Regions from separate parts of the Homo sapiens genome. Here region 1 is linked to region 2. The links come from fine-mapping of genetic effects on gene expression. A gene starts in region 2. The other region holds a variant in brackets. All regions are shown on one strand. Distances are between the middles of the regions. Region 1 overlaps GTF2I (general transcription factor IIi). Region 2 holds the start of NCF1 (neutrophil cytosolic factor 1).

Region 1 (2,922 bases), 62 kb after region 2:
GACTGTACATATCTATAGAGACTTATAATTTGTAAATAATTTTTACTTTTACTGTGAGGATACATAGTTAGGCACATACAAACTAATGGTTGTTATATCAACTTAGTGACCAATTCCTTTAAATACGACATAGTCTTATTCTATCCTGCTACTACTGTTTTTGGCTTCCAATATTGCTAAACTATATTTTTTTTAGTTGGTATTTACTCAAAATACCTTCACGTATCACTATACTTTCAAATTATTTTAATGTCCCATATTTGAATTTTATTCACCCTAAAAATGGTACTTGATTTTATTCACCCTAAAACATACTTAACCTCCACCTCTCAAATGCTTGAGGTGCCTACCACTCATTGAGAAAATCAACACATTCCCAACACTCACATTTGAATGTCACTATTTTACAGGAGCACTGAGGTGCACAGAGAAATATATCCAAGCCTATTTTGGAATACAAAAGTTTTAGAAGAAAACATCAATGTCTTTATGTAGAAGAACGAAAAAACGAACTGTATTATAATCACACAGTGTAACTACCATGATGACATGATTAAATCTACTTGTGACAAAACAGATAAATCCCAGCTGAGGCAGAGAATTGCTTGAACCCGGCAAGCGGAGGTTGCAATGAGCCGAGATCTCACCACTGCACTCCAGCTTGGGCGACAGAGCAAAAATCCATCCCCACCCCCACGCCAAAAAAAAAAAAAAAAAGATAAATCTTGAAAACTTAAATTGAGTGACAGACTATACTCAACAACACATACAGTGTACCACTGTGTAAGCTTCACTCAGGAAGTGGCATATATAAAACAATAAATATGACATGACACACACACACACACACACACACACACACACACACACACACACACACACTCCCGGGAGAATATTTACGTAGTAAAGCACATCACCATCAGGAAGGACAATTCTCAGTTTTCAAGATCATGGTTAACTTAAGAATAGAGAGAAAAGTGGGGATTTGGGGGAGCCCAAAGAAAGGCTTCAATGAAATAGTTACACGTTGTTTCTTGGAGGGAGGAGAGAAGAGACAAATACTATGGTTCACTAAACCTGGGCAGACTGATACTATGCTTTTAGGTTTTAAATATTTCATTTTAAAAAAGCGTGTTAGCCCCTGTAATCCCAGTACTTTGGGAGGCCAAGGCGGGTGGATCACCTGAGGTCAGGAGCTCGAGACCAGCCTGGCCAACATGGTGAAACCCTGTGTCTACTAAAAAACACAAAAATTAGCCAGGTGTGTTGGCACACACCTGCTATCCCAGCTATTCGGGAGGCTGAGGCAGAAGAATCACCTCAACCTGGGAGGTGGAGGTTGCAGTGAGCCAAGATCGCGCCACTGCACTCCAGCCTGGGCAACAGAGTGAGACTCTGTCTCAAAAAAAAAAAAAAAAAAGAGAGAAATGAAGGCCTATGTCCACACAAAAGCCTCTACACAATGTTCATAGTACCTCTATTTGTAATGGCCCCAAACTGGAAGAACCCAAATGGCTATCAACAGACAAAGAAATGAATAAATTTTGACTCAGGCATACAATAGAATACAAATCAACAATCAAATGGAATCTACTACTGATACGTGCAACGCTGTGGATGAATTTCAAAACAATCATTTGAAATGAAAGAAGCCACACTGCTCCCC[G/A]GCCCATGAAAATAGTCCACATTTTATTATTTCATTCATAAGACTTTATAGAAAATGCAAACTAACCTAAAACAGAAAACAGATCCGTGTTGCCTGAATACTGGGCAGGGCAATGAATAACAAGGGGACACAGGAAACTTTTGGGGTTATAGATATTTCATTATCTTGGATGCAATGAAGATGGTGTATTAGATATGTAGATGGCAAAGCTAACCAGATTTTTTACTTTAAGTGTTTAATATACTATAATTATGCAGTGAGAAAAAATTAAGCTGACATTATCTGCATTTGCCTAATAGGTTTGTTTTATTTTGCAACACTAGAACCTGGGATTGAATTCTAAATTGTGCCACAACTTTTGCTCATCCTTTTAAGAACACAAATGGCTATTTTACATATCCCCTCTGGATTGTCTGAGTTGATCTTTTAGCCCCATTTTTAAATGTTTTATCCCCGGGACTGAATTACAATATATATGTCAATCAAGAACTGATCAATAAAATATTATTTAAGAAATTAAAGCAATTGATGAGCAAATTTTAATTTTAACCACGAATAATTTTTAGAAAGAAAAATTGCATTAATTCAAATTACCTTGAATGTTATATTGATAATAATCAGGATCTTCTGATTCTTCCTTTACTGTCACAGCTGCCATTTCCAGGGAAATGCCTAGAAAAGCAAATGCAATGATATGATTGCATGTGAGAACTTTCAGCTAGATTGTGTAGGGAAATCCTCTCTGCCCTCCCTATAAATACAGCAATGCATATTTATTTTAAGTAAAGACTTTACGTCTTTGAAAAGACAAAAGTTTGCTAGGTAGCAGAAGGTAAAAAATCACTATAATCCCAGCCAATGCAAAGTTTTAACCATTTATTAATATTCTGCAATTATGTGCTGCTCTTTTCTCCAGCAAATTCTTATCTTTAGAATCAAAGAAAATTTTACCACACTCCCTTTTCACTTAATATTAAAAATACTTTTATAAACCATTGAAACACACTTATAAACATCAGTTTTAATAACTCAGTATTCCAAAGGAGAGATAGCATAATGGTCAACAATTTCAATAATGAGATACATTGGTTTTTTTCTGCCTAATACATCCCTTTTATTACAGGGATTTGTGTAAGGGTACAAAGCACACCTTTCTGCATAAAGCTTTGCCCACAATTAGGACAGATGATTTGAAGCAGACCTTTGTGGCCAGATACAAAAGAGTACATGTTGTGTAATTCCACTCATATGAAGGT
Region 2 (2,891 bases):
TAAAAACTAGCCAGGCATGGTGGTGTGCGCCTGTAGCCCCAGCTACTCAAGGGGCTGAGGCAGGAGGATCACTTGGGCCTGGGAGGTCGAGGCTGCAGTGAACTATGATCGCACCACTGCACTCCAGACCTCATTTCAAAAAAACAGGCCAGGCACGGTGGCTCATGCCTGTAATCCCAGCACTTTGGGAGGCCCAGGTGGGTGGATCACTTGAGGTCAGGAGTTTGAGACCAGTCTGGCCAACATGGTGAAACCCTGTCTCTACTAAAAATACAAAAATTAGCCAGGCGTGGTGGTGGGCACCTGTAATCCCAACTACTCTGGAGGCTGAGGCAGGAGAACCAGTTGAACCTGGAAGGCGGAGGTTGCAGTGAGCTGAGATCGTGCCACTGCACTCTGGCCTGGGCAACAGATCAAGACTCTGTCTCAAAAAACAAAAAAATAACAAAAAAGAGAAAGGTCTTGGCACATAGGACTAAATGTTCCATACAAGCTTCAATTTCCTAAATGTAGTTCCTCCCTGGCCTTCCTATGGGATTAGGGGACCCAGTGGACTTGTGTGTCTGAGCAGGCATTTGTCCAGCCTCCTTGGGGACAGATGGGAGGACTCTATTGGCCCCTGTCATGGTGTCACCCTACTGGAGAGGATAAGACTCTAACTGACACTACAGGCAGCTGGGGAGAGAGAGAGCTTTAGTTTCCAGGCCTCCCTCTTGGGAGGGCCACTCTCTGATAGCTGGGCTAGTCAGGGAAGGCTTCCTGGAGGAGTGGGCCTCGGACCTGAGAGAGCGCTGGGCTGCCTGGCCATGGCAGGGGAGCAGAAAGAGGACTCCTGGCTAAGGCTGAGGGCCTGGCTGGGGACACAGGCGGGGACAGTAAAGGGCTGGGGCCCAGGGCGGGTCCAAGGGAACTGTCTTCCCAGGGATCAGAGGGGTAGATCCAGGCTCAAAGACCAGGGACCAGGTGCCCAAGACCCTGCCCCGTTAGTCCTCACTGGAGCTGGTTGGCCCTGGGACTGCAAGGGTGGCCGTGCTGTCCCTCCCGTATTCCCCCCACGGGATGCCCTCCACCAGCTACTCACATAGTGCTGGCTGGGTACGAAGCGCTTCTCAAAGCCCAGCAGGGCGATGTGACGGATGAAGGTGTCCCCCATGACTGGGTGGCCTCCAGTGCTCCCTGGCACTTCCAGGCTGCGCCTTAAATGCACTGGAAAGAGGAAGTCGCTTTTGTCGCGGTCGGGACAGGGGGCAGGGAGGGTACAGAAAGGGCTTTGCTTCTTCTTTCAGTTTCTGGGGACTCTTCAGGCTTGCAGGGTGTAAACATGGGCAGACTCATGTTCACACACACCTGCAGGGACAAGGAAAAGGGTTTACACTTGTCCTTCCCGTCGCCTGCACGGGCCCCACGGGTTTTGGGGGTGAATCAAGCTGCTCCTGCCTCAGGGCCTTTGCATTTGCTGCGTCCCCTTGACCATCTTTCCCCCCTTGACCATATTCCTGGTCTTGACCATGTTCCCCCCATTCACCATCTTCCCTCCATAACTCTCCTCCATTTCTCTGCTCAAATGTCACCTCTTCCGAGAAGCCTTCCTTGATAACTTCACATTGCATAGCAAACCTCATACCTTTCTCAGCCTCTTCCTGCCTCCTTTTTCTGCAGAGCACTTATCACTGATGCATCGCAAATTGCATTTAATTTTTCTTTATTATTATTGCTATTGTTATTTGAGACAGGGTCTTGCTTTGTTATCCAGGCTTAAGTGCAGTGGTGGGATCACAGTTCACTGCAGCCTCCAACTCCTGGGCTCCAGCGATCCTCCTGCCTCAGCCTCTGGAGTAGCTGGGACTACGGGTGTGTGCCACCATGCCCGGTTAAATTTTTTTTAATTTTTTTGTACAGACAGGGTCCTGCTATGTTGCCCAGGATGGTCTCAAACTACTGGCCTCTAGTGATCCTCCTGCCTCTGCCTCCCACTTTTTTTTTTTTGAGATGGAGTCTCGCTCTTGTTTCCCAGGCTGGAGTGCAATGGCGCGATCTCGGCTCACCGCAACCTCTGCCTCCTGGGTTCAAGCAATTCTCTTGCGTTAGTCTCCTGAGTAGCTGGGATTACAGGCATGTGCCACCACACCTGGTTAATTTTTTTTTTTTTTAATTAGAGACTGGGTTTCTCCATGTTGGCCAGGCTGGTCTTGAACTCCTGACCTCAGGTAATTCACTCGCCTCGGCCTCCCAAAGTGCTGGGATTCAGGCATGAGCCACCGTGCCTGGCCTGACTTAATTTTTTTAGTCTCCCCTTACCACAATGTGTGTCCCAGGAAAGCTAGGGCATGACCGGGTTATCAGGGGCTCTAGCCCCAGCCCCTCCATCTAGTGCCTGGCACACAGAGGCCATAAATATTTGGATCGTGACTGCAACATTCACTGAGTGAATGAATGAGTGAGTGAATGAATGAATGAGTCAATGAATGAGTGAATGAATGAATGAATGAGTGAATGAACGCGGGCATGGGAGTGTGCATGCAAGCGTTAGATGCTCATCCTTGGGTGTGTGTGGATGAGGGCCAGTGACAGCTGGGACGAAAATGGCACAGACTTTGAGTGAGACTTGAGTTCCAATCCTCAAGTAAGCAAATGGTTCATTGAATTGTTCCTTAGGGCTGACTCAGTTTTCTCCAGAGTGATATTAAGACTGTCAGCTTTGCCAGGAAGGGGATTTGGGACAAAGAGGTGAGGAGGGGGCAGCATGCCCAGGGACAGGCTGAGGCCTCTCTCTCCCACTCCCCCTAGAGCCTGGGAGGCCCAGAGCTTTTGGAGCTCATTCAAGGTCATGAGTTCATGAGTGGCGGGCCTCAGCCCCAGGCAGCCTGCTGCAGCCTGTGCCTCCCAGCAGG

Evidence for each region.
Region 1: its variant is fine-mapped to the expression of NCF1 in whole blood (INTERVAL, PIP 0.91).

What each region holds. Positions count from the first base shown.
Region 1 is chr7:74,710,448-74,713,369 of GRCh38, reverse strand. GTF2I (general transcription factor IIi) reads right to left here. Exons shown (of 35, transcript NM_032999.4): 9 at 2,261-2,338. The region is part of intron 2 of GTF2I-AS1 (GTF2I antisense RNA 1); the gene reads left to right. Among named protein-coding and RNA genes, the nearest start is that of GTF2I-AS1, 17 kb to the left of the region's middle. The variant G/A (reference allele first, on the strand shown) is at 1,667.
Region 2 is chr7:74,772,294-74,775,184 of GRCh38, reverse strand. It overlaps NCF1 (neutrophil cytosolic factor 1), which reads right to left and starts at 1,174. Exons shown (of 11, transcript NM_000265.7): 1 at 1,082-1,174. The coding sequence starts at 1,153. RefSeq lists an enhancer at 2,348-2,891.